Linked DNA regions of Homo sapiens. The protein of the gene in region 3 interacts with the protein of the main gene of each other region in a biochemical or structural test. Each region holds a gene or a part of one and is shown on either strand. Other genes may lie near its edges.

Region 1 (7,112 bases), on a different chromosome or scaffold from region 3:
AATTTATCTTGCAGTTTTAGTCCTTAAGATCTCTCATTCCACCTCAGTTTCTTTTCCTAGACAGTTGTTATATGTTTACTTTTCTTAAAGATTCAGCACACACCTATTATTTGTTAAACCTTTCAACTCACCCAAATATAACTGCATTCCACTGCATGATGTTGTTTTCAGATGGTGCGCCACTGACACCCACAGGTGGGTCCTCTTGTAACCTGGAAATCCAGCGTGGTAATTTAAAAAGTTGAACATTAAGGCCACTAAGGAGGCCACGTAAACACCTACAGACACTATACCATCTATTTTGAGACACAGACTAACTCCATTTCCTTGTTATTGTGAACTAAAATGAACCATATGACTTAAATATATTAACCAGGTATATATACTTATTAAATACCTCTCCAAATTATCTAAAAATTGAAAGGGCTTGAGAATCATCCCTCTTTCAATATTATCTCTTCAAGAATTGATGCATAGGAACACTTTTACACTGTTGGTGGGACTGTAAACTAGTTCAACCATTGTGGAAGACAGTATGGCGATTCCTCAGGGATCTAGAACTAGAAATACCATTTGACCCAGCCATCCCATTACTGGGTATATACCCAAAGGAATATAAATCATGCTGCTATAAAGACACATGCACACGTATGTTTATTGCGGCACTACTCACAATAGCAAAGACTTGGAACCAACCCAAATGTCCAACAATGATAGACTAGCCTAAGAAAATGTGGCACATATACACCATGGAATACTATGCAGCCATAAAAAAGGATGAGTTCATGTCCTTTGTAGGGACATGGATGAAGCTGGAAACCATCATTCTCAGCAAACTACCGCAAGGACAAAAAACCAAACACCACGTGTTCTCACTCATAGGTGGGAATTGAACAATGAGAACACTTGGACACAGGAAAGGGAACATCACACACAGGGGCCTGTTGTGGGGCGGGAGGAGAAAGGAGGGATACCATTAGGAGATATACCTAATGCAAGTGACGAGTTAATGGGTGCAGCACACCAACATGGCACATGTGTATACATATGTAACAAACCTGCACGTTGTGCACATGTACCCTAGAACTTAAAGTATAATTAAAATATATTTAAAAAAAAAGAATTGATGTATATAGACTGTCCTCTTATACCAAAAAAAGTTTAAAACCTCAAAAGCAAGTAATATTTTTACAGAACCATTGATTTTGCTGCTCTAAACATGCAAAGACTGTGTATCCTAACCAGGCTACTTCTGCAAAATGGCTACAAGAAAAAAAAAAAAAGCAAACCTCAGTGTAAACACAAAATGACTGAAAACACATTAAATTTAACTAGGAAACTAGTATTAGGCAGCAGATTTACTCTATTCCTTTTGCTTCAAACAGCAATGGCTTTAAAAAGTAATTAGTAGGTTTTCTGCCAGTCCCTATTTTAAAGGCTCTGCACTAACACCAAATCCACCTCTCAGATCAGGAGACTCAACACAAGGCTTTCCAACATTCGTCATAGTCAAATTCTTGTAACCTGCAGATCTCTGGAAACTACAAAAGGTGCCATGCATTCAACTCAGAATTAAGCAGAGCATTACAGTAAGGAGCCAGGGCGACAATGACATGAACTAGTTTACTATCTGAATTTGTCATGAGTGCTAATCAAATACGCTGATTTCAAGCTTTAGAAAGATGACTTTTGCACCAAAAAGGGCATCTCCTTTCAGAGACTGTAACCTCAATTAAAAATGCTACATTATATACACACACAAATACATATGCAGTTGTTTTTCATGGGGCATCATAATTTGCAACTAGTCCACATTAAAAAAATGGTTTTTAGTCAATCTCAAGCAAATTAGGCCACCACGAACAGAAGCCTTAGAAGAACTGCACTGCTTGACGCCTACCTTTAAATGGCTAAGAGAAGCTACGAATGAATTAAATAAGTTGGCCAAATCCAAGTGCCTCACATAGGCTTTATAATAGCTGAGAGGTGACTTCCTGAGCGACAAATCTAAGTTTTTATGCTAGATATTTTGTTCAATTAGGGCAGGTGTCCCCAGAAAAAATGTTAAGAAAAATGTGCAGAGTATCAAAATGATGTTTTCTCACTTATTTTTTCTATGTCTCTAAGTATCCAATAAAAGGTAAACAACGGAATAATCATTTTCTATCTCACAACCCCAATACCTCCTAACAAAACCCTATTTTATTTACCAAAGGAGGCCCAGGGAGTATCAGATTAGCGCCAGTCTAAGGGAAGGCATTTTTCCAGACTCGGGAGGCTATAGATAGGGGCTTTCTTCACCAGCCAGAGCTGAGTTCCAGAAAGCACTGGCAGCCGGGGTGGCCAGCTCTAAGGTCCCAGATCTCTAAGTCAGTTCCCAAGGTCCTTTCAGGCGGGCGGGGACAGAGTCGGGTTTCGGGGGATGGGTTAACCTCCGGGCCTCACGCACTGGACCCCACCCTCAGGGCACAAATGGAAAGGATTGGCAGGAGTCGGGAGAGGGGTTCGCCCCAACACGGCTCCTCGGAGAAGACGGCGGGGCCGTGAAACAAAGCTGACTGGTGCTGCCGGAGAGGAACAAGCTCCCGCAGGAGCTCACTTTGAGGGGACAAGAAGGGGGCGCCGCAGGGTGCAGGGGCGGGCGGATAATGTCTGATCGCCTGGGCGAGACGCCGGGCAGCTGGCCGAAATGGGCAGCAGGGAACCCTAGACCAGTCGATCGACACCGTTTTACTTTTTGTGGGGAGGGGAAGCAGTATCAAAATTTCTTCGGGCGCCAGAACGAGCGGCAAAGCTTATGGGAGTAGGGCCGAGGCTAGGACCCGGCTTCCGCCAGTCCCGCTGGGCCCACAGCCGGCCCTCTGAGGGTCACAAAGGGGAAGGTGTCTGGGATCCACGCCCTGCAGCCCCGCAGCTTTGAGGGGCCGTCATCTAGGCGAAGGTGAAGGCCCTTACCGCTTGAAATCCCGCATGAGCCTCCTCCGGGCCGGGGTCGACATGCTCCGCAGCTGCCCCGCGGTCAGTCTGAAAAAAAAAAAGTCCCGCGCAGCCCCCCCACCCCCCGGCGCGGCGGCCGAATCACTGTGGATCGCCGCCGCCGCCGCCGCCGCCGCCGCCGCCGAGACTGACAAACAACCCTGCAATGACGTCTCCCTCCGCCGCCTCCGGATCCCTCCGCCCTCCGCCGCTACCACAGTGTGAGTGCTGGGGGAGGAGGGGGCGGGACGCGGGAGCGCGCCTTCCCCGAGCCCTTCAGCGGGGCGCGGTTCCCCCTGGGCTTCCTGAAGTAATAGACAAATTTGTGTTCTCTGTGTTCAGACTAGAGGTTGTGGATTCAAAGACCACGAAACAGAAACACTATCCCGTCTCCCTCCCCGTCACTAGTTTAGGCTCGGCGGGGTGGAGAAAGAGGGACGCATCCGGGCCAGAGATTTCAGGGAAAGGAGGTGGGATGATGTAAGATCACGTGACTGCCCGCGGCCTTGTCAACAATCCACCCCTGAGTGGGAGGGGGAGAAGTATCTAGAACCACGTGTCCCTATGACGCGTTTAGAACGGGTCACGTGAGCGCCTCGCCTGGATGTGAGTTTCAGCCAGGTCTGTGAAGCGGGTTTAAGAGGGTGAGGGCGGGATAAACCTTTATTAGTTGTTTTCTGTTTATCACAGGTATAGAGACAACATTACCCAAGAGGTCATGGCAGAATCAACAGCTTGTTTTGTTTTCTTTAAACCGGGACCAAAAATAATTCCCCTCTGGTTGGTTCAGTGGCTTATTAACTCTGGTACTTGGGGCAAGAAGAGTGAGAGGATCGCACGATCTTCTAAGGCAGCCTTGAATACTGAGGCCCACACAACAATCTCCTGAAATGGTTCCTTGAAGCTACCAGATAGTCTTTCTGCTTTGCAGTGGGGTTTCTAGTATTGGAAATTCTGGGCAAATATTAAAGGATGGTGTATTATGCAGTTTTTCCTTTCTGGGTCTGCTTTCAATTGAAGATATGTGTCAGAGTCCGGGGACTTGCCTATGGTGGGGGAGTACCATTGTATTTTTAAGGAATGTGGGGGTGCAGTCTTCCAAGCATATCAATGAGTGGTTGGTTGTCAAAGAAACCTACAAATATGATTCATATTCTGGGGGAGAGCTCCGGCAGACATGAGTGAGGGTTATATATCTAGCCTGAGATAACTTCAGGTTTTCTACACTAGCAAGAAAGGTGCAAATGGGCCAGAAGGGCCCCCCACCACCAGGGGGTTCAGAGGTGTTGACCTCCCAAAGACCTTGAATATTTTCTGTGGTCACCGTCCTTCCCTCTATTGCTTCCAATTCCTACCTTCAGGACTTTGTTATACTAAGGACTCTGAGTACTTTTGTATCCATTTGGGGAACTGTTCAGTTCAACAGGTAAAGGGAGGGTGGAATGAGGACCTTAACATTGCCTCAGCCTTGCCCCTGATTCCATGGAAGCAGAGTTAACTTTTCTGACTTTCCTTGTACCTCTTTCTTCAAACCCTGAATTCCCTCTCTGCTTCCAGTGACTGCCTTGGTGATCAGGTTAGCCAGGCCTAACTCTTGATAGGTCCTGTTAGACATTCGCAATGTGTTTTTTAAGTTAAAAGCTGAATATTCTTAATTTTTTTGCCTTTCTGCCATTGCAGTCCTAACCCTTCCAATAGCAAAGGAGGAAGACACACAGGTAGGGTTACATGGAGAAAAATGGTAAAGAGAAACTATATCTTAAAAATATCCCTCATGAGCTGGGGCATTAGCTCATGCCTGTAATCCTAATACTTTGGGAGGCCAGGAGTTGAAGACCAGCCTGGGCAACATAGGAGATCCTGTCTCTACAAAAAGTAAAATTAGCCAGGCATGGTGGCGCACACCAATAGTCCCAGCAACTCAGGAGGCTGAGGCAGAAGAATCGCTTGAGACGAGGAAGTTGAAGCTGCAGTGAGCCATCATCATGCCACTGAGACCCTGCCTCAAAAAAATCCCGCAACAACCAAAAAAACCCTTGTAATTTATCAGTCAAGGCAGTCACTGAAAGCAGAGACAGAATTCAGGGTTTGAAGAAAGGGAGGTACAAGGAAAGTGGGAAAAGTTAACCCTTTCTGGTTCCATGGAACTATGGGCAAGATTAGGGCAATGCTGAGGTCCTCCTCCTACCCCCTCTTTCCCTGTTGAGCTGACGAATGGATACAAAAGTGCTCAGAGTCCTCCTGACCCACCAACGAAGTCCTGAAGATGGGAACTGGAGGCAATAGAGGTAAGGAATTCAGAGACTACAGGGATTTATAATTGTTTTGGAAACAGTTTATTATTTTCCAAAATGATATAACACTTTTAACTGATTCAGTGAATGTGCATCATAAAGTCTTACAGCTGTGTATTAGCAAGAATCACTGGCTGTCCTTGTTAACCAGGCCTGCCATAACCTACTTGTAGAAGGAATAATTTTAAAGCTATTAACTGTATGCTGTTATCAGTTCTGTAGCTCTGGATTATGAGTTCATTGAGGGCAGGGACTCAGTTTGGTTCATCTTTGTCCTGGGCAAATTTTTTTATTTTTTGAGACAGAGTTTTGCTCTGTCACCCAGGTTGGAGTGCAGTGGTGTGAACAGGGCTCACTGCAGCCTTGACCTTCTGGGCTCCAGTAATTCTCCTTCAGACGCCCAAGTAGCTGGGACCACAGGTGTGCACCACCATGCCCGGCTAATTTTTTGTAGAGATGGAGTTTTGCCCTCTTGCCCAGGCTGGTCTGGAACTCCTGGGCTCAAGTGATCTGCCCACCTTGGCCTCCCTGGGATTACAGGTGTGAGCCACTGTGCGCAGCCTCCTTGCAAATATTTAGCCCACAACAAATAATATGCTTACACCAAGTTTGAGCCCACTATAAGATTTACTATGACATTCTTATTTATAGAAGGTATTTTATATTGTGGTTGAATAACTTTCTTTTTTTTTTTTTTTTTTTTTTTGAGATGGAGTCTCGCTCTGCCACCCAGGCTGGAATGTAGTGGTGCGATCTCCGCTCACTGCAAGCTCCGCCTCCCGGATTCACGCCATTCTCCTGCCTCCGCCTCCCGAGTAGCTGGGACTACAGGCGCCCGCCACCACGCCCAGCTAATTTTTTCTATTTTTTAGTAGAAATGGGGTTTCACCGTGTTAGCCAGGATGGTCTCGATCTCCTGACCTCGTGATCCGCCCGCCTGGGCCTCCCAAAGTGCTGGGATTACAGGCGTTAGCCACTGCGCCCGTCTGAATAACCTTCAAAGAAAAGACAATTCTGAATATTTTAGGTGATCAATGAAAACGATGACCACTTCTCCTTTCTCTCAATATAAACCCTAGCAGCATAGAAAAAACTTGAGAAGCTTCAAAAATACTAATTTATTTACGCTATCCCAATTAAATCAGGTGCTCTGGCATTGGGGCAGGGGTGTGGAGGTGGGGGTTGGGATGCTTTCTAAAAGCTCTCCAGGTGTGATTTAAATATGCATGCTGGGTGGGACCCACCAGACTAGATTTATTAAATAATGCCTTTCCTCTTATTTAGCGGAAGCATAGCGAGATTTCGCTTTTTTACATTTAACTCATTTTATAGAAGAAAGCAAAGAAAGCCCTATTCAATAAAGAAAGCACTCCCTAGGCACTTGGTCTAGTGATATGGTGGTTATTCATTAGGGACTGTCATTCCAGTTGAACTCTATGTCTACTTAAGCAGTTAGACACTGGCCTCTTTATTTCCGTGCTCTTGTACATCATTTCGTATATGGTGGAACTCTTCGAATTACTTGCTTTCCTAGAGTTTGACATGTGGTGAGGGAGGTTTTTTTTCTTTAAAAAAGATTACTAGCAGTTGGAAAAAATTAAAAGGCATATGGCAAGTGTTCAAGAAAAGTTTTTGATTTAAGAACCATCTTGACCGGGGGCGGTGGCTTACGCCTGTAATCCCAGCACTTTGGGAGGCCGAGGCAGGCGGATCACCTGATGTTGGGAGTTCGAGACCAGCCTGGCCAACATGGTAGAAACCCCGTCTCTACTAAAAATACAAAATTATCCGGGCGTGGTGGCACACGCCTGTAATCCCAGCTACTCGGGAGGCTGAGGCAGG
Region 2 (7,026 bases), on a different chromosome or scaffold from region 3:
TAAATAAACATTAATTCAATTAATCTAACCCCTTGCTATATACTGTATGTGTGTTAAGGGATCCAAAGAACAATTTTTTTTATCTTGATGAGCTTACACTGATAGACATGTAAAGTAACTGCAATGAAATGTTATAGGTATCATGAAATATGAACAAGGGACACGAGTTCAAAGAAGAAAGGTCAATTTATTAATGAAGAATCAGGTTCAAAGAAATATACAACTAGTAAATGGAAGAGCTTTTATTTATTTGAGACGGAGTCTCACTCTGTCGCTCAGGCTTAAGCGCAGTGGCACGATCTCAGCTCACTGCGACCTCTGCCTCCTGGGTTCAAGCAACTCTCCTGCCTCAGCCTCCCAAGTAGCTGGGATTACACATATGCACCACCACACCCAGCTAATTTTTGTATTTTTAGTAGAGACTGAGTTTCACCATGTTGGCCAGGCTAGTCTTGCGGCCTCCTGACCTTGTGATCCACCCATCTCGGCCTCCCAAAATGTGCTGATTATAGGTGTGAGCTACTGTACCCAGCCAGAGCTTATTTAAAGTGAGTCCTTCTCCATCTCCCAAGTCTTCCCCCTTTTTTTTTGTAGGGGTGGAGGGCGGGGGGAATGGGAACGGGAAGGGGGACAAACAAGACGCAGAATATCATCTTGCTGTTTGTTGCCCAAGCTCGAGTAAAATGGTGCAACCTCAGCTCACTGCAAGCGCCGCCTCCCCAGGTTCAAGAGATTCTCCTGCTTCAGCTGCCTCAGTAGCTTGGATTACAGGTGTGCACCAACGTGCCCAGCTAATTTTTTATTTTTAGTAGAGATGGGGCTTCACCATGTTGGCTGAACTCTTAACTCCTGACCCCAGGTGATCCGCCTGCCTCAGCCTCCCAAAGTGCTGGGATTACAGGTATCAGCCACCGTGCCCAGTCCTTTTTCATATTTTCTACAAAATATGGAACTAGAAAAACACTCAGGTCACTTAGAATGTGACCTGAGTTTATTAGATTAACATGTCTTTATTAAATAGTTATATTAATTTTGAATAGATGCTTCAAATAGCATATACTTTCACCTGATCCAATACTATACAAGATATGTTTTTTCTGTGTAAAATTAACAATTTAAAGGTAATCCCAAACACTAAAGTTGTTTTTGTTTTTTTTGAGACAGGGTCTTGCTCTGTCGCCCAGACTGGAGTGCAGTGGCACGATCTTGGCTCACTGCAACCCTCTGCCTCCTGGGATCAAGTGATTCTCCCACCTCACCCTCCCGAGTAGCTGGAACTACAGGAGTGAACCACCACAGTTGGCTAATTTTTTTTGTCTTTTTAGTAGAGACGGAGTTTTTGTTGTCTTTTTAGTTGAGAGGCTGGTCTCAAACTGCTGAGTTCCAGTGATCCACCCACCTTGGCCTCCCAAAGTGTTGGGATTACAGTCGTGAGCCACCATGCCCGGCCCCAAACATTGAAGTTTTAATAACCTAATTCCAGAAGTTCTTTGTAAGCTTTCATTTCAATTTTCATAAAATCAAATGCTGTCTATGACTGCTTCTGAATAAAGGCAATCTGCTGATGGGATTTAGGCAAAGCCAAATTTCGTTTCGTTTGTTCGAAAAAAGAACTTTATAAAGAAGGCAAAATATTTCAATGTTACAATTTAACACTAAAGTTCTGCCATGCCAAAAGAGGAAGAACTACGAGGTTCAGAGATAATGAAACTAGGCAATATAAAAAATTGAGACCCTATGATATTTAAATTCTATTATGAATCAGCAGCAAACTACACCAAAAAGAAACAAAATCCCCAAAGAATAAGGAACACTGTGATCAGCAAATCGACTCAAATCGTACAAGTCCAGAATTTATGTTAGATTTTTTCAGAAACCTTCTACTTCTTTTGCTCTCATCAGTGCAAAGTTGCTCCCTCACAGTGCCTCAGCTCTTCTGTGGCAATAAAACGTTGGTATTCTTTTTTTTTTTTTTTTAAAGTGGTGCTGTCGCCCAGGCTGGAGTGCAGTGGTGTGATCTCGGCTCACTGCAACCTCCACCTCCCAGGTTCAAGTAAATTCTCGGGCCTCAGCCTCCAAAGAAGCTGGAATTACAGGCATGTGCCACTACACCCAGCTAAAAATGCTGGTATTCTTATAGGTTGATTTTCTACTCTTAACTGCTGACCCATAAAAATTTGAGTTGCAAAATATATCTCTGGTCAGTTATTCATTCCAGGGCATATATTCAAATGCCTACTGATATTTCTACTTGGATATCTCTACTTGGATATCTCATGTCATGCGTCCAAAACTGAAACTTGTCTCAATCCCTTTTTTCCTGTTTATTAATAGCAAGCCATAACTGAAAGCCATAAACCAGGATCTCATCATCAACTTCTTCCTCTCTTATCTCAGAATCAAGATAGTTATCAAGTAAGATCTTTAAAATTTCTTGAATTAGCTTCTCCTTTATGCCCACTGTCACTACCATCTTAGTTCATGATGTTATCTTCAGCCTAGATTATGGCAATAGCTTACTAATGATTATCCCTCCATCCTAATGATAAAGTGGTCTTTTAAAAATGTTACTCCCCTGCTTGAAATCTATGATAGTTTTTAAGATAATTCCAACTCCTAAGTACATACGGTGCTTTATGATCTGGGTGCCCATCTAGTTTCATCTTCTGTCTCTTCTATAGAACATGTTCTCTACTGCACATAAAATATTATATGGATAACATATCTTTTTCTCTTCCCTACTTGGAATATTCTTCCTTATAATATAGCCCTTCCTTTGTCTTATCTGCTCCCTACCCTTCTTTTATACCTCTTTAAGCACATAGTTACCATTATCCACCCATATATCTAACATTTACTTATATTTCTCTTTTATTAGACTACAAAGCTCCTCAACGAGTAAGGTTAAAGGTGGAAAAAGTCTTCAGGTATCAGTAACCTACGTGGGAAATGACATAATAATACACTTGAAAAAAAAGTTGAAAAAATAATCCTTATGGACCAAATAAAATAGTACCTATGGACCAATTATTTTAATTCAGATAGTTTTTCTGGTTGACTATGCTCAGGCTGCCAAAGGTTACATTTTTCAGATACTTTCACATTTTTCACAGGTACTCTCTTCTACATCTCTGTCATAGATTAGGTGGGAGTTAGTGTTGTTCTCTAAATCCACTTTTTCTGGATTTCCAATAAAAAAAAATTTAAGCAAGTAAATATCAGAGGCAATAGGTAAGGAAGTCAATTTCTTCTAATTACATCAATTCTTGTTGGAAACTAACCTTAATACAGTACCCCACGCCCCCCTCCCCAAAAAAACCCACGCACACAAAAAACTAGCAATGCTGTCATTTCTTTCGAAGGTTTAGTTTTTAGTCAATAGTTGTGCTTCCGAAGTAGCTTACCTTCAGAAAGAATAAGCCAGTACATATGATTATTAAAGCCAAGCAATTTTGCTGCATAACTAATGATCTAAAGGATTTCCCAACAACTCACTAAAATCAAAGTTACTCTATTGAAACTCAAAATTAGATGGTATATTCCCTACAGTCAGGAATCTTCAGTTCTGTGGCACTGGCACCACTTTAAGGGACCTAAGTAGTAGTCCAAAGCAAAAGTGACGTTGTTAACTGTCCAGTTCTCCCACTAAATCTGTAATTTATGGGTTGCTTTAGGTCACAACTGCTTGCTACATAGAGCAACCATACTCACAAAATAAGCTACTATTTATCTTATACAGTGATGCTTTGTCACAAAGAAGTATTGAGAAGCCAAAAGAACAAAATGAGTTGTTTCATTGGTGCACTCCACAGTAAGCATATAGTTAACTATTTAAAGCTGGCATCTAAATTATGTGCTTACTTATGTACAAGACAATACCCGTACTTTGGGTGGATTTTTATAATCTTTGACTCCTTCTTGAAATTTACCCAACCAACAGTGAGAACTAACCTTTTTAACTGAAAACATATTTCAGTGAGTACTGCTACCAAAGCAAAACCCAGCAGTTGTGGTTAATCAGGTTAATATTTAAATGGTTCTGAAAATCACATGCTTCTGTTTGTAAAAGCAGAAAACTGCTAGTCATTATATTAAAAGGTTGCTGAAAAAGTTCAGCAAGGAATAGCCATCACCTGAAATATATATTTAAAAAATGAAAAAAGGTAAATGTTTTCTCAAAATAACAGCAAATTAAGTAAACTGCTAAAAAATCTGTCAGAATAAGCAACACCATTCTCTAAAAAAATTACTACCATACACTCATCATTCATGTTTCCTTTTGATTGTCTATAGGTATGTTCCTTGCCTTTTGGGAAAAACTAGTGTGTTGTTCAAAATAACAAAGTCTAAACTGTCAAGCAGAAAAACCAACTAGTTTTAAAGAGTTAGTTTATTCTGCACACCATCCAATTAGAAGTTTTAATTACCAACGCTTCTGTGCTTTCTTAGTATTGACAATTTTTATAATGAAACTATCAACTACCCTCTGAATCAAAGATGAGCTTTATTTTAAGGCATTTTATAGCATTCTTTGAAAACTGGTAATCCAAAATGGGAAAATTCTAGAGGTTGCAAAAGCAACTGCTTTACAAAACACTAGGCAGATAATATGGAATTGACCTAGTAGGCACTGTGGTAAACACATATCCCATCTAAAAAAGGGAGGCAGCTGTCATTCCATCCCAAGCCATTACTGCTTATGGAATGTGGGCCTACTCAGAAGGCTTTTATTTGAAGACTGCCAACTTTCAAAAATATCGTGTGGGCCAAACTGGGTAACTCAACATTTAACTGCGTGTATTAAAATTAAACAATATTGCTACCAAATTAGATAAAAGTAAGTACTTTTAATAACTACAAAGCCAGGATTGTGCATTTCGTTATTACAGGACTATTTTTACTGTTTTAAATGTTACTTTGTTTTAAAATGATCCAGGACGTTTCAAAGTATTAAACTTAATATTTGCACCCCTGCCATGTCTTACTTTGATTTAGTTTTTCTACCTTTAGGGCACTAACATTTTAATTACTCTAAATTAATCCTCCCTGCTTCAATTTCCCATTAATTTATCCTACTCAGCACTTCATTCACCAATCACTTATTTTCCATCTTGTCACACTTCAGCACTTGTTTTAGGTATCTGTCTCCTCTAATACAGTGTAAGTTCCCTATAAGATCGACAGGGATGTTTATTATGTTCAATTTGTATCCTTATTACCTGGCACACAGTATGTACTCACATTTGAGACAGAAAAATGACTAAAGTTAGAATCAGAATTACTAAATAAATACTTGTTGATTCGACTCATCTACTAACTCTAAGAGCATTTTTTCCTTTAGAATTCTAAATATTACTTACTGACCATTATCTCACCTAGTACATTATTGCTCTTTATGTTGCTTATAAAACCACCAAAAAGGGAAGACAGTTTTCAGGAAGATACACATGTAACTTAGAAAACAAATCCTTAAGCGCCTTAGCAAGTTAAAAAAAAAAAAAAAGTTAAATATTTGTGTAAGATACAGTCTTACCCCAGGATGTTTTAGTGCGCTCTAATTCTCTGAAATTCTTAGATGGTATCCATAATTCTGAATATTCAATTATCCAGCATATAGTTGCTTATCTACCCAGGATAGAAAGGAATTTTGCTATATTCAAAATATCACTTTCTGCCTAAATATATTCAAATTTTGCATAAACTGAAGTTCTATAAAGAATCAAATATCAAAATACAATTAAGCTAGATTATTGGCAGCTGCAGTAACAGAATAAGATCTCTGAGTAACACAACGCATGGCATATCAGAGCCAGTAACTTTGTCTCTATAAATAACAGGAAGTTCCATGACAATGCTTTACACAGTGCTATGTAGAAAAACTGAACTGAGATACAGAGATGTTTGGTAGGTCATAGAGATGGCTATACTCTAGAACGTGAACACAGGGATAGACACAAAGTACACGTAACAAATGACTAACTCATTATGTTTTTTCTTTCAAATGCAGTACAACTATGGAATATCCAAAATAGAATTAACTATATGATAAAATAAACCTACAGACCAAGTTAAAAATTACAACCAAATCAATGCTGGATTTTCACTTAAAACTAAATTTAAAAATTCTTAATACTTACAGGTCCCATAATTGTGGCTTGCCAATGAAACACTAGAAAAAGAAAAAAAACTCTGGTTATCTAAAAATGCACAAGCTTAAAAAAAAATTAGGCATAAAAATCAACTTGCAAGTTACTTACTATCATCCCCAACTGGACCTGCAGAACATTGTGCTGGAGGGTCACGGGCCAAATCACTAAGTTCCTACACCAAGACAGAAAATGGGTGAGTCACATAAGCTTAATTTAAGAAAACAAGCAAATGAGTCCACTGCTTTCAGTTACTTTCACCCTATTTTTAAAGGCACACTCCATCACAATTCACATAAATAATATATTCCATTAGGAGAGAGAACATGCCTGAACATATGCTGAGACAATCATCTTAGCTAGAGTTCGTAAAAATATATATGCAAACACATTGATACAAAATTTTTTATTTACATAAAAGCCAATCTCTTACAAACCGAAATAGCTATAATTAGATATTCTCATAGTTTAAGAGCTTAGACCAGAGAGAGCTCAACATTCACGTTATTTGTTGAACTTCCAAGACCACTTTCAGAGGCCCTCAACTGTCTTAAATTCTTTGTTCTTCCTGAACCATCCTTCCTCCCCAATCCACTAACTCTATTTTCTACCTGAAAACAAACCAAAAAAACTCTCATGGGGCTAAGTACCTTTTTTGTTTTCTAATCTCCTTATTCTCTCAACTCAACCTTTTTTTTTTTTTTTAAACTCAGCATCCATTTTTAACTATTGAAATTTTTTTTTTTTTTGAGACGGAGTCTCCAGGCTGCAGTGCAGTGGCGCAATCTGGGGTCACTGCAAGCTCCACCTCCCAGGTTCACGCCATTCTCCTGCCTCAGGTGCCCGCCACCATGCCAGGCTAATTTTTTGTATTTTTTAG
Region 3 (7,026 bases):
GGATGGAGAGATTTTTGAGAACAGGACCTGAGAGTGAAGGCCTCTCTGACAATCTTCACGCTTCACCTAGGCCCCAGATGTGCCCCCAATTCACTATCTTGGGTTGGGCACTCGATGCGGACTGGAGCCAATCACAAAATACCTCAACTGTAGGGTCCCACAGGTTGAACCAGAGATCTGGCTGAGAGAACAATTACCAATCACTGGGTAGCCATTTTGTGCTAAACAGCCCATCATTTAACAAACTCTCATGGATTACCAGGCATTGTACTAACTTCATTTTAATAAATACCAGTTAATCCTCCCCAAACCCCCCATGAGATAGATCACTATTATTTCTACTTCACAGACGAGGAAACTGAGGTACAGAGAGAAGTTACGTGATTTGCCTAAGTTCAAGTAGAGTTTGGATTTGAACCCATATTGATTCCTGTGCTCTTAACTCCAGAATTTCTCCCCCATAATCCCTACAGCCCTGACTGGGAATCAGGTATGACGCAGCCCACACCACAGTCAAGGGCAATAGCAACCAAGCCTCTTTGCTCAAAGGAACTAGGGTGAGGAAAAAGCAGGTCAGGATCAATCACTCTTCTCAGATCCCCATGCCTCAGGGCACCTGCCACAGCTGGACTCCACAGTGGGAGGACCCACACTGCAGGCTCCCATTTCAGGGAAACACATTCTGCCAAATGGACCCAACAACTGGGCATTACCTGGTCAGGAGGGAAGTTGTGCAGCAGCTGCCGGATGTTGTTCGAGTACTGGGTGTGCCAGTGGTGGCAGGCCCAGGTCACGCAGTCAGCCCAGGTCTGTGGTCGCTGCAGCACCAGGCTGCGCTGCACAGCCTCCAGCACCTCCAAGGGCTGAGTGCCTGCCAGCCGCAGTGTTCGCTCCACAAACTTGGGGTCTCTATCAGGAATCGAAGAGGACAGAGGATAGGATTACATGTCAGCCTCAAGAGTGGGCTCCAGAGCAATCTTACTTTCTCCATGGAAAACTAGTCCCGACCCCAAACAACATGAGGCCCCAACAGCCACTCATTCATGTGAAAAGTGTGCCTGGTGCCAAGTGTTACTGTCATGAGGAAAGCAGCCGGGATGCCTTGGCTGGTGGACAGGGACAGGGCGAGAGGGCACTCGAGTTACTCACGTGAGGTACTGGTTGACATTTTCTGCTGGCTGCTTGAAGAGGCCTTCAAACTCATCCCGAGCCCACTGCAGACAGAGCAAACAGATTACATGTGGCCACAGTTGACAAAATGGGTTTCCGCAGGCATTATTAGAAGGACCATCAGTGAATAAAGCAAGTACAAGGCGCACAGCTACTCTGGAAGTGGGGAAGCCCTCTAGCCTTCCCCATTCCCCCACCTCAATTGAAAAACCAGGCCAGGCACAGTAGCTCACACCTGTAATCCCAGCACTTTGGGAGGCTAAGGCAGATGGATCACCTGAGGTCAAGGGTTCGAGACCAGCCTGACCAACATGGTGAAACCCCATCTCTACTAAAAATACAAAAAGTAGCTGGGCGTGGTGGCAGATGCCTGTAATCCCAGCTACTCAGGAGGCTGAGGCAGGAAATCTCTTGAACCCGGGAGGCGGAGGTTGCAGTGAGCCGAGATCATGCCATTGCACTCCAGCCTGGGTGACAGAGGAAGACTGTCTCAAAAAAAGAAAAATCAATGAAGTTGATTTGGGCAGTGGTTACAATAGTGCTGTGTATGTGGAAAACTGTTTTGTTTTGTTGTTTGAGACAAAGTCTCACACTGTCACCCGAGCTGGAGTGCAGCGATGCAATCACGGCTCACAGCAGCCTTGACCTCCCAGGTTGAAACGATCCTCCCACCTCAGCCTCCCGAATAGCTGGGACAGCAGGCACATGCCACCACACCCGGCTAATTTTTAAGATTTGTTGTAGAGACAGGGTCTTGCTATGTTGCCTAGGCTGGTCTTGAACTCCTGGGCTCAAACAAACCTCACTCCTTGGCCTCCTGAGTGCTGAGATTATAGGTGTCAGCCGCCATGCCCAGCCTAAAAATGTATTAAGATCTGAGTGCCAGGCGAGGTGGCTCACGCCTGTATTCCCAGCACTTTGGAAGGCTGAGGCAGGAGAATCGCTTGAACCTGGGAGGCGGAGGCTGCAGTGAGCCGAGACTGCGCCACTGCACTCCAACCTGGGCAACATGAGCAAAACTCCACCTCAAAAAAAAAAAAAAAAAAATCTGTGTACCTTATTCTAGATATGTTATGCCTCCATAAAAAATAAAAACTTCAATTAGGTATATCTTACCACAGTTTTTTAAAACACAAAAAACTCAGACCAAACCAACAATGATCCCTATCCAGGCCCTGAGGACTTGGCAGAAAACAAGACAGAGGCCGGACACAGAGGCTTACACATGTAATCCCAGCACTTTTGGAGGCTGAGGCAGGTGGATCACTTGAGCCCAGGAGTTTACAACCAGCCTGGTCAACGTAACGGGCACGCGTGCGTGCGCACACACACACACACACACGTACACACACTTACACGTACACACAGACACTTACACACACACACACACACACGTACAGACACTTCCCAGGAGTTGGAAGGTTGCAGTGAGCTATGATTGTGCCAATACACTTCAGCCTGAATGGCAGAATGAGACCTGTCTCAAAAAATAAAATAGCAAACAAGACAGAACTTCTGGCCTCTGAGAATTCCTAGGACAGTTCGCAGTCATTAGCGAGGTGGTTTGGAGTGTACAGATGTTAGAAATTCAGGTTCAGATTCCAGCTATGCCACGTATTACCTAGTTTTGTGACTTCAGGCACACAGGATAACATCTTTACCTCTGTGCCTTGTCTCTAAAACAGGTGTTACAACAGTGATACCTACCTTCATGGGGTTGCTAGGAAGAAATGAGCAAATACATATATATTTAAAGCTTGGTTAAAACAGTGCCAGGCACACAGTAAATGCCAAGTGGTTCACAATAGTCCTGTGAGGTAGATGCTGTCATTCCCATTTTACAGAACAGGAATCTGCGGCACAGAGAGGTTAAGTTCAAGGTTACACATGACCTAGCAAGACTGTGGTTGGTGCACAAATACAAACATACCCACTCTGGAACTGCAGTGTCAGAAGGGAGAAAGTGACAGATGGAACTGTTTTTTTTTTCCCTTCCCTATTTTGTTCCCACCCTCATACTCCTACTATTCTAAATGGTTTGGCCTCAAACACTGCACTAAGAATTATTCTGACAGCACAATGGTAATCCCTAGGTTCTGTTTCTTGGCCCAGGTGGTGGTCACCTGTGTGTTCACTTTGTAAAACTTCAGCTAGATCAAGCTTGTCTAACCTGTGGCCCATATGCAGCCCAGGATGACTTTGAATGCTGCCCAACACAAATTTGTAAATTTTCTTAAGACATTATGAGATTTATGCACGGATCTTTTTTTCTTTTATTTTTTCAGCTCATCAGCTATCGTTAGTATTAGTATATTTTATGTGTGGCCCGAGACAATTCTTCTTCCAATGTGGCCCAGGGAAGCCAAATGATTGGACACCCCGAGCTAGATAATATATGCACTGTTCTGTAGATAAATGCACCATACACACAGAATCATCCTGACAAACCAGCTGTTAAACTCATTTTGAGTAACAGCTGGGGAAAACCTGAATATGGACCATTAGAGACAAATAAATAACTAGAAGAGATGGTAAGAATGATTGTTAATTTTGCTGAGCATGAAAATGATGTTTCTGTTAGACAGAAGTAGTTCTCAACTGGGAGTGATGTGGCACCCCTGGGGACATCTGGCAATGTCTGGAGACATTTTGAGATGTCATGATGGAGGGAGAGTGCTATTGGCATCTAGTGGGCAGAAGTCAGGAATGCTGAGAAACATCCTACAGTGCACAGGGCATCCCCTCTCCCATGACAAATAAATAACCAGCCCCAAATGTCAGTAGTGCTGAAGCTAAGAAACCCTGTTCTACAGCAACATATCCTCACTTGGCAGAGGCACTGAAATAGTAGGGAGTAAAGGGCTGTGATGTCTGTGACACATTTAAGCACAAAGAAGAAAAATCTACATAAATCTAAGAAGAAAATGTGGCAAAACATTAAGAATTGTTAAATTTAGGTGAGGAATGGTATTTGAGTATTCATCATAATATTCTTAATATTTGTCTATGTGTTGAAAAAAAAATCAAAATAAAAGTGAAAAAAGAATGAGTCATTCTAGAAACCTAGGCTGCCTGGTGGGAAGTGAGGGAGGGAGGTTTGGAGAAAAGGCACATCTTACACTTAGGCATGCAACATCTGAAGGCAAGGCAAGGGCCTGGGGGCGGAGAGGCAGCAGCCTGGCCAGATGCCTGGCCTCTTTCCCTTCTCCCACAGCTTATCACCTGCAGGGTGTGCTCGATGGCATTAGGGAAGTTCTTCAGGGTACAGATGGGGATGGACTTCTCAGGTGGGTCCTGGCTGGAACTGTACGACTCTGTCAGGAAGGGGATCACCACCTGCACATTGCCTTTGGTGCCCAGTGTGCCTGACTCCAGCAGTGGCTTCCGGTAGTAGACACAGCGGCGGTCCATGTACATGCCTGTGGGGAGCACAAAGCGAGAGCTAGGAAAGAAACATCAGGAGAGGACAGAAAGACGGACACCCCTCTTGGTATATACACACCGAAACACACACAACTTTGCCCGTGACCACCTCACCCGCCTCCAAACTCACGGGCATCCACGTTGTCCAGGGCATTGGCCACGCCATCTAGGTTTTGGAAAAAATCGTCATCATAGATGCGCTCCGTGTCAGGACCCACACGGTTCTGGTGGCTTGTCACCCGGATATGTGGATTCATTTGGCGCACAGCTGCAGCAGCCGTGTCAGACTTTAACTTCTAAAGGGTTAAGAAAGTGCAGTTCCAGGGTGGGGATGGGGGAACAAAGCTCACTTATTTGTGCATTCACCCAACAAACATCTTTATTTTTTTTGAGACAGGGTCTCTCTCCATCACACAGGCTGGAATGCAGTGGCATGATCACGGCTCACTGCAGCCTCAACTTCCCAGGCTCCAGCGATCCTCCCACCTCAGCCTCCCGAGTAGCTGGGACCACAGGTGTGTGCCACCATGCGTGGCTAATTTTTGTATTTTTGGTAGAGACAGGGTTTTGTCATGCTGCCCAGGCTGGTCTTGAACTCCTGAGCTCAAAGACCTCGGCCCCACAAAGAGCTGGGATTACAGGCGTGAGCCACCGCACCTGGCCCAAACACCTATAAAGGGCTGTCTGCCTGAGACTGATTTACTTAATGCTGGGGAAGACCCAGGCCCTGAGTTAGGAGGCTAGCAGGAGAGACGGTCTGTGACAATGCCACATGGCCAGGATGATGATGCATGTGGCAGGGGCTCAGCATAAAGGGAAGCTGTGGACAGGAACAGACTGGAGACAATGGGCCAGACATCTGTTCTTTCGTCTAACACCTGCTATTTTTTCAGGTAACAGCACCCAGGATTGATGCAGACTCCCCCAACCACCACCAGGATGCTGGCACACAGACAAGCAGGATCCTTTCAAAGCCCAAATTGGGCCACGTCCCTCCTCTGCTCAGAATCCTCCCCTGGATCCCACCTCCACTTACCGTAAAATGAGTTGGCTCCCTGACCCCTCCCACCTCAGGATCTTTGCGCAGGCTCTTCCACAGCAGAGGGCACTCTAGTCCCTCATATCCTTGAGGTCTTTGCAGAACTCAGGCCTTCCTTAACCATTGTCATCAATACTACAAACCATTCTCCCTGACACCCCGACTTCCCTTGTCTGGTTTTAGTTGTTTCCTTTGAGGAGCACTCATCACCAACATTAACTATATACCTCACGATCGTATTGTGTCTATTGTTTGCTGTCCGTTCCCCTCTCCCTCCAGGAATCTTGTTTTATTCCTTGGTATATCCCCAATACCTAAAACAGTACTAAAACTATCTGGTGAATAAATGAAATAAATGAAAGGGGGAATAAATCCTGGGTAAGCAAAAACGACACTGCTCCTTACAGAAAGCTTCTCAGAGAACCCTGCATAACCAACCCAGTTTCCATATGTGCAGAGAAGTGTAAGCCTAGGAGACTGAAACTACAACCCTTGGAAAGGCCTGCTTCCAAGGTCGGCTCCTTGGCTGGTGTCTGGGAACTTGGAATTCAGGAAGGTTCCCACCGCTCCCTACCTGGTATCAGTGGTTCACTGTGCCTAAACCGTTCATGCAAACAATACAGTTTACGCTGAACACCTTTCCTTCTGGGAGTCTGGAAATTTTGTTATGTGCCAGGAAGGGGGCGCCTACATGACCAGCCCCAAGTAAAAGAGGTGGTGCTGAGTCTAACAAGCTTCCCTGGTTGGCAACATTTCATGTCTTGTTACACCTTGTTGCTGTTATTTCTGTAGTTACTGTTGCTACTGGGGAAATAAAGGCCGCCTTGTTTAACTCCCGCTGGGAGAAGACTCCTAGAAACTTGCACCAGCCTTTTCCCTTTGCTGATTTTGGTCTGTATCCTTTTGCTGTAATAAATTGTAGCCACAAGCACGACTATATGCTGAGTCCTGTAAGTACTCTAGGTGAATTGAGCTTGAGAGTAGTTTTGAGGACCCCAGACACACTGTCCCAACCAGCACTAAAAAGAGGTTAAGGCAAAAAAAAAAAAAAAAAAAAAAAAAAAACAGAAGCTGAGGGAAAGAAAGGCCAAAAAGAAGGGCTTCTGGCAGAGGCAGAAAGATCTCTGACAGAAAGAATGGGAACAAGAAAAAGGAGGGGTGAGGTGTGGTGGCTCACGCCTGTAATACCAACACTTTGGGAGGCTGAAGCAGGCAGATCACCTGAGGTCGGGAATTCGAGACCAGCCTGACCAACATGGAGAAACCCTGTCTCTACTTAAAATGCAAAATCAGCCGGGCGTGGTGGCGCATGCCTGTAGTCCCAGCTACTCAGGAGGCTGAGGCAGGAGAATCGCTTGAACCCAGGAGGCAGAGGTTGTGGTGGGCCAGAGATC
Region 4 (7,026 bases), on a different chromosome or scaffold from region 3:
CTAAGTGTGATGGTTTGTAATATATAACAAATGAAAAGATGTAATTAGATTATAAGAAAAGCATCTGCCTGTAAAATATGAAGGAAGAAAGGAAGTAATGGACTCCTCATGGGGCCCACAGGGAACCAGGAAGGACCCAGAAAGGGTGCCGGGCCCTTCCCCTGTGCTGCAGCTACAGGGCCCCATTTCTTCAGAAGGAGCGTTCTGGGTATTCCATCGTCCCCTGGAAGTCTGGCAGGTACAACCCCCTCAACACTCCAGGGAGGGAGGGAATCCACAGGAAGCCATGAACTGCTGGTTTCAGCGGGGAGAGGTAGTGCTGACAGCTCTGATAATCTACCTGAAGCCCTTTGTGAGGAATACTGTAAAACTGCAGTAAGCTGTCAATATTCGACATTAAGTCATCATTTCAGAAGAGAAGCCTGTTTGAAGTAGGAAAGGTTTGAAAAAAAAAAAAGATGCCATGGTTCTTGCAAGTCTGCCTTGTTTGGTACCAGCACAGAGCATCACTGTCACTAAGTGTGCCGGGGGAGAATGCTGAGCTGCTTGGCGGTGTGTGCGCGCCTGTGCGAGGCCAGGTCTCACAGTCCCAGAGACTTCTGGACGATCTGCTTGGCAATCTTATAGAACTGCTCCCGGTCATCGCGCCACATTTTGGACGCATCCACGTTAGCTCCACTTTCGTCATTGGGCTCTGAAAGAAAAGGGAACACCCTCCATGTAAAAGGGAGTCTTATACGTAAGCAGCCTGGCAAGGTCTCCCATTTATTTAAAACACTGGCGGGGGCTTTCAAGAGCTGTGTCCCAGAAACAAAGAACCTGAGAACTGCATGGGGTCGGCCCCACCTCTAGAGTGCTGGCCACGCAGGTCTCAACGAAAGCCACTCTCATGACTCCTGCGTTCTGAGTGTCTGAAGACACCAGGACAAGTTGTCATCTGTCTTGCTGTGGAACATGCGACAACCACCTAAGCACAGGCCCACACGGCCTCCCACAGCAGCCTCCTGGGCCACTGCACTTCTGGCACCCGGACAAGCTACACGGGGACCACCTGCTGCTTATTTCACCTTTCTCAAGACACTCTGCAGTGTGGCTTCTCTCTCACAGAGCGCCCTCTCAGCAAAACTGCCCCTCACAGCTCCTACCAAGACAATCCCAAGCAAATGTGCAGCCTAAGGTAGACACCTGACCCCAGGATACCTGACCCACCCCCTAGCCAGCGGCACTGGCAGTCACTGCAGAACTGCAGTTAGGAGGCACGGAGGGAGTAGCCAGGGCCTGCCGGAAGGCAGAACGGAGAGAGACCACCAGAACTGGATGACATGTGCTGAGGCAGCAGCTGTGCAGTGCGGCGGTGGCGCTGCTCAGAATGCACGTGGGGACCGGTTCAGAGCAGAGTTGATGAGGATAAAACCCACAGCTGACATCTGAGGACAGCCTGAGCCACTGCCTCCCTCCCAATCTCCAATCCCCTGGCCTGGCTCCCTCCACTCAGCACATGAAGAGGGTTCACGCCTCAGCCCTCTCAGGATACACACTCGCGTCACAGGCCCTGACCTCACATCCCTCTAGACCCCACTCCACGGCACCCAAAGGCTCTGCAGAGAATAGCTGAGTGGCCTCACTCTGGCATCGACCCCTGGCCCTCTGCTGGGTCTGCTCTTTCCTTTCGGACTTGCCGCCTTCCTTTCCCACACCCTTCCTCCTGACTGCCCTGGAAGACCCCTCCCTGCTATGCTGTCACCCTCCGTCCTACTCCATCACCTACTGCCTCATCCAGAAATGACCCCACATCTTCACTCTCGTGTCTGACCCCCTTTTGTGGATGGAGGCCCCTTGTCCCACACACCTCAAACTATTCCCCAAATCCTGCTGTCTCCTGAACCCAGAGCAGCACCTCTGGTAGACAAAGAACCAGGAGTCCCAGAGCCTGTACCTTCAAGGTCTCCCAAACCCACCCCTTCCTCTTAGCCCTGGGACCACTCAGCCCTTCTCTTTTCTCTCCAGGCTACTGCAACACCACGATGTCTCTGTTTGTCTTCCATCACACTATTGGTTACTGCTGCAAGGATGGCCCTTCGAAGGCACAGCTCACAGGACATCACACCCCCAACTCCAATCCCCAGGGTCTGCTGGGGCTCCTCTCCCTGCAGCCTTGGCTCCAGCCAAAATGAGCTGGCAGTGCCCCCATCAAGTCAGCCACCTCCTGCCTCTGGGCCTCAGCCCAGGCTGCTTCCTTTGCCCCAAAACCCCATTCCCTCCCTCCTACCTCATCAACACCTACATGTCCTAAACACACCCCAGACAGCCCCACCAGGAAGTGGCCCGAGAGTCCCTGCATGTGTCTGATCTTAGGGTGCATCCCACTGGCCTCTAACTGCTGGTAGGCTTGGACAGTTCCCTAGAACGTAGGAACAAAGAGTTGGGGTCTTTGTCACACGAAGCTTTACACCCCCAGTCCAGTGTGTGGCATGTAGTGGGTCCTCAATAAACACCTACTGAGGGAAAAAGACGATCAAGGACCAGAGACCAGTTAATTATGGCCGACAATACAATATACAACCCCAGGCTATGCTAGAAGGTATGCTTACAATTGGAAAAGTGTAGGCAGATAACATTAAATGGCAATAGCATGTGTAAACTAACTGCAAATGAGGAAAAGGACATTCTAAAGACAGGATGACGCAAGGCTGGAGAACACCTGCAGCCTGGGTGTCCACGGCAGCTCCTGCCAGGAGGCTCGGGCCTTACCTGCCAGCATGCTCACCACCGACAGCAGGATCTTCTCCACACTCTGCACAGGACTCCACCGCTCCGCGCTGCTCTCGTAGCCCATGGGGTCATCGCCTGGCGCGTGGAGGATGGAAATGCAGACTCTCCCATCAGGGTAGACTGCAAGGGTCAGAGGCAGCCAAGTGAGCCCAGGAATGGTGCCCGAGGCATCGCCGCGCTTGGGCAGGCTCCACAGATAATGAGAACAAAGACTGCAGACACAGCAACCAAGCTGTTTGCACAGCTGGGGCATAGCCTGGGGCCCTGAGTGTCACGCTTCATGTCTGCAGGAATCCCGGTGGGGCCTGCTCACTCACTGACAGGCTCCAGGCTGACCCAGCCAGTTCTAATCAGCTGTCGTAGTCTAATCCACTTTCATATGAATTTTTTTCAAGCAATATATACAAAAAGACTAAATGAAAGGTTATCTGGCAAATATTTTATCAAAATATCTAATGTGATTAGGATTATTTACAATACTTTTCAGAGCTAGTTCCTTAGCTATTTCTAATTCTATCATTAAATCCCTGAACCGGTCTGTGTAAAATATATGTTCACATGGCTATGATAAAGGCAACTGGAATTATGTAAATATCTACAAAAAGAAAGGCACCAGGATTTCTCTTGGTAGCTTACTCTAATAATAAGTAAATTATCATCAGTACAACCTGGAATGTAGGTCAATGTGTCTAAATCAAATCCCTTTCCACCAAATATCATCATTAAAAAGATACACAAGGTCTGATAAAGAGAAATAAATTTTCAATTCACAGCATTTAATCAGTCCTCTTTTACATAAAATTGGGAGGAATTCTCAGATGGCTCCATATATACTCAGATATGCAGTAATCCATCTAGATAGACTCAACTGTAAAATTATAAAGCCATTAAAGTTATAATAATAGAAATAGCAATTTTAAAATACATTTATTTAACTCACCTGAGTTAATAAGCTCTGAATTTCATGAAAATTCACAAATGTGAATGGCGATCACTTACCTTCAAACAGTCTTGTCTTTCATACCTGGTCCTATGTGTTTCCACTCATCCATTGTTTCAGTGGTGAACGTTCAGTGGTGAACGCTCTACTATCCAGGAACTGAACCACAACTTCTCATTCAAGGAGAGTGGAAGAAACTAGATGCATACTTGCCCTGGACATCAGGCTGTCCACCTAAGATCCACATCCACAAAATCAGGAAGTTTCCCACTTCTGTGTTGCCTTCTCCAGGAGTTGGTCCCATAGGGTGACACTGCATCCACAGAAGCATCAAAAGCACCTGTGTCCCTGCCACAGCCCCTCCTTCACCAAGTCCCAGCAGTGCCATGTCCTAAACCTCTCGTGGATCCACACACATCTCTTTATCTTTAGTGCCCACATTTAGTTCCCAAGTTGCCGGTGTCTCTACCCTAGACCACTACAGCCGAGGGCCTGCCTGGCTTCCTCCCACCTGTCCTTTGCACTGTACCCAGAGCGAGCCGTCAGAGATCATTCTGGTCATGCCACTCCCTTGGAGTCTTTCAATGGAGTTCCGCCACTCCCAGGAGAAAACATCAAAACCTTCAGTATTGACCAAAAGGCCTGAGGTAGTTTGGCCCCGGCCTTCCTCTCCCGTCACTTCCTGCGCTGGGCCTTTGCACATGTGAAGGGCCCCTCCTCCCCGAATCACTCAGGTAACTCCTGCTTCACTCCCTACAGATGGTCCATCCAACCACCACCTCTGCAAGGTGCTGCCCAGAACTTCCTGATGTGACTTTGCATTTTGTTTGTGTGATTCTCCTATCAATGTCCATCCCTGTCCTTGGAATATAAGCTCCTGAAGGTCTGCTATTATTTGCTCACCACTGTATACCAGCAACTTTCAGTACGTGTGTTGAATTGTTTTTAAAGTATTTATTGACTAGTTTTTATGATATTGGTAGACCTATAGTTCTCAAAGATAATTTTTAAAAAATCAAAATAATCCAATTACAGTAAGGCAAAAATTTATATTATCTGAGCATTAAAAATAATTACCAGAACATTAAAAATAATAATCAGACCACCTGTAGTACATAGTCACATAAGGTAATCAGTTTATTGGTCATATTTGTCACTAATGCCATGTCACAGGTATTGTTCTGAATAATATATTTCTCCTCAATACAATCTTAGTATTTTAATTACCTACAATCCTCTTCATAGTTGCATTTTATAGCTAACCAATTTGAAACTACTTCAATTACTCTTACCTATCAATTGTATTTTTTAACTTTTTATTATGGAGAATTCCAAAAACACACTCAAGTAGACAGCGTGTGATGAACCTCCATGTTATCATCTAACTCAGGCGCATGGCCAGTCTCCCTGAAAGAAGGCACGCTTCTGAGCATCCCCTGTGCACACAAGACTGAAGCAGCTTTGAGATAAGAAAAGAAGTACCAAATGGTCTCTCTCAGGCAGCCGCCCACTACCTATGTGTACCAATATCTGCAGTAAATGAGAAGTCCTAAACGAGGGTTAGGACAGCAAGTCTATTGGCAGACGGCATTTCCACCAGTGAAGTGGCCGGGGGTGGGGGGGTAGTCCTGAAAACCCCTATGGCAAAGATGTAAAAGGAAGAATGTAAAAGGAAAAAATAAAAACTACAGCTGTTCAGAAATTCCAATTCCTACTACTGGACACATTTTCAAATAAGCTACAGTACAATTCACTTAAATGACCTTATTTTTTTCCTCCTTTTAAAATTAATATATATTAATTTTAGGGCAAAAAAAGATTTACAAAAAGGAAAAAAAATTTCAATCTGAAAAAAGAATCACTTTTAACATTTTTGTGCTTACTTTTCCAGTTATATATACATTTACATGTGAATTTCTTTTTCAAGAGGAAATTATAACAGTGCTACTGCTTTTCCCAGTCAATATAACACAAATACTACTTTGTATCATTGATTCTTCTTTTAGATCATTTAAAAAATCTACATCACATTCTAACATATATGATATAGTTTGGGTGTGTCCCCACCCAAATCTCATCTTGAATTGTAGCTCCCATAATTCCCACATGTCATGGGAGGGACCCAGTGGGAAGTACTGAATCATGGAGGCACATCTTTCCCGTGCTGTTCTCGTGATAGTGTACAAGTCTCACGAGATCTGATGGTTCCGTAAAGGGCAGTTCCCCTGCACACACTCTCTTGCCTGCCGCCACTAAGATGTGCCTTTGCTTCTCCTTTGCCTTCTGCCATGATTGTGAGGTCTCCCCAGCCATGTGGAACTGTGAGTCCATTAAATCTCTTTCCTTTATAAATTACCCAGACTTGAATATGTCTTTATTAGCAGCGTGACAACAGACTAATACAATATATAACTTAATTTATTCTTGTGTTAAAAACCCAGGTTAAGTCAAAATTTTCACCATTACAAATAACACTATGACAAAGATTAGCATAACCCCTTCTGAGCACACACCCATGTGTAAAACTTCCTCCCCAGTGAAGTAGGGTGGCTGGGTCAAATGGCATCCGGTTTTAGGTGCCTGTTGTCTTTTATCTATATTAAACTGACCTTCAAAATTGAAATCATGTGCTTAATACCACCATGCTTACTTGGCTGAATTTCAAAACATAAGAAGTGTTTTCTAAAGATCTACATCATAGACATATAGAATATACCACATTTCAGGTGGCTGATAATATTATCTCCGTACCTATCCTGGTACCACAAAAACTACTTCCAAAAGCACTTACTGTTGGGATGAAACATCTCACAGGTAAATCTCATCTTTGGGGGACTTAACGGGTAATCAAGTGGGAAACTCAGGATGGCAGGAAAAACACCAAACTCAAAGCAGGTGTCTTCTGGGCCCCTAGAAGATATAAAATACGTAGACTGAACTTCAAAGTACATTTTTCAACGTCGACCACAATTGACAAATGGGTTAAGAACATTTTTACCACTTTAAAAATGCACGTGAGGCCGGGTGCGGTGGCTCACGCCTGTAATCCCAGCACTTTGGAAGGCCGAGACAGGCAGATCATCTGAGGTCAGGAGTTCAAGACCAGCCTGGGCAACATGGTGAAACCCTGTCTCTACTAAAAATACAAAAATTGGCTGGGTGTGGTGGCGCATGACTGTAATCCCAGCTACTTGGGAGGCTGAGGCAGGAGAATCGTCTGAGCCTGGGAGGTGGAGGTTGCAGTGAGCCAAGATCTCGCCACCGCACTCAAGCCTGGGCGACAGAGCGTGACTCCGTCTCAAAAAATAAACAAA

What was found.
Region 1: of the proteins of UBA1 (region 3) and UBE2B, one has a biochemical effect on the other in vitro, tested with the Homo sapiens proteins (10 studies listed by BioGRID, with this or other methods).
Region 2: of the proteins of UBA1 (region 3) and UBE2D3, one has a biochemical effect on the other in vitro, tested with the Homo sapiens proteins (10 studies listed by BioGRID, with this or other methods).
Region 4: of the proteins of UBA1 (region 3) and UBE2G2, one has a biochemical effect on the other in vitro, tested with the Homo sapiens proteins (5 studies listed by BioGRID, with this or other methods).

Annotation. Positions count from the first base shown.
Region 1 is NC_000005.10:134,367,483-134,374,594, reverse strand, and holds the start of UBE2B (ubiquitin-conjugating enzyme E2 B), read right to left. Parts: upstream 3,000-7,112; coding exon 2,956-2,999; intron 213-2,955; coding exon 132-212; intron 1-131. UniProt on the Homo sapiens protein: E2 ubiquitin-conjugating enzyme that accepts ubiquitin from the ubiquitin-activating enzyme E1 and transfers it to a E3 ubiquitin-protein ligase. In vitro catalyzes 'Lys-11'-, as well as 'Lys-48'- and 'Lys-63'-linked polyubiquitination.
Region 2 is NC_000004.12:102,803,535-102,810,560, forward strand, and holds part of UBE2D3 (ubiquitin-conjugating enzyme E2 D3), read right to left. Parts: intron 6,322-7,026; coding exon 6,258-6,321; intron 6,170-6,257; coding exon 6,138-6,169; intron 1-6,137. UniProt on the Homo sapiens protein: Accepts ubiquitin from the E1 complex and catalyzes its covalent attachment to other proteins. In vitro catalyzes 'Lys-11'-, as well as 'Lys-48'-linked polyubiquitination.
Region 3 is NC_000023.11:47,203,811-47,210,836, reverse strand, and holds part of UBA1 (ubiquitin-like modifier-activating enzyme 1), read right to left. Parts: intron 6,570-7,026; exon of another isoform or gene 4,976-6,569; intron 4,890-4,975; coding exon 4,724-4,889; intron 4,590-4,723; coding exon 4,393-4,589; intron 1,215-4,392; coding exon 1,150-1,214; intron 910-1,149; coding exon 714-909; intron 1-713. UniProt on the Homo sapiens protein: Catalyzes the first step in ubiquitin conjugation to mark cellular proteins for degradation through the ubiquitin-proteasome system.
Region 4 is NC_000021.9:44,770,796-44,777,821, forward strand, and holds part of UBE2G2 (ubiquitin-conjugating enzyme E2 G2), read right to left. Parts: intron 6,623-7,026; coding exon 6,504-6,622; intron 2,893-6,503; coding exon 2,752-2,892; intron 695-2,751; coding exon 582-694; 3' UTR 1-581. UniProt on the Homo sapiens protein: Accepts ubiquitin from the E1 complex and catalyzes its covalent attachment to other proteins. In vitro catalyzes 'Lys-48'-linked polyubiquitination. Involved in endoplasmic reticulum-associated degradation (ERAD).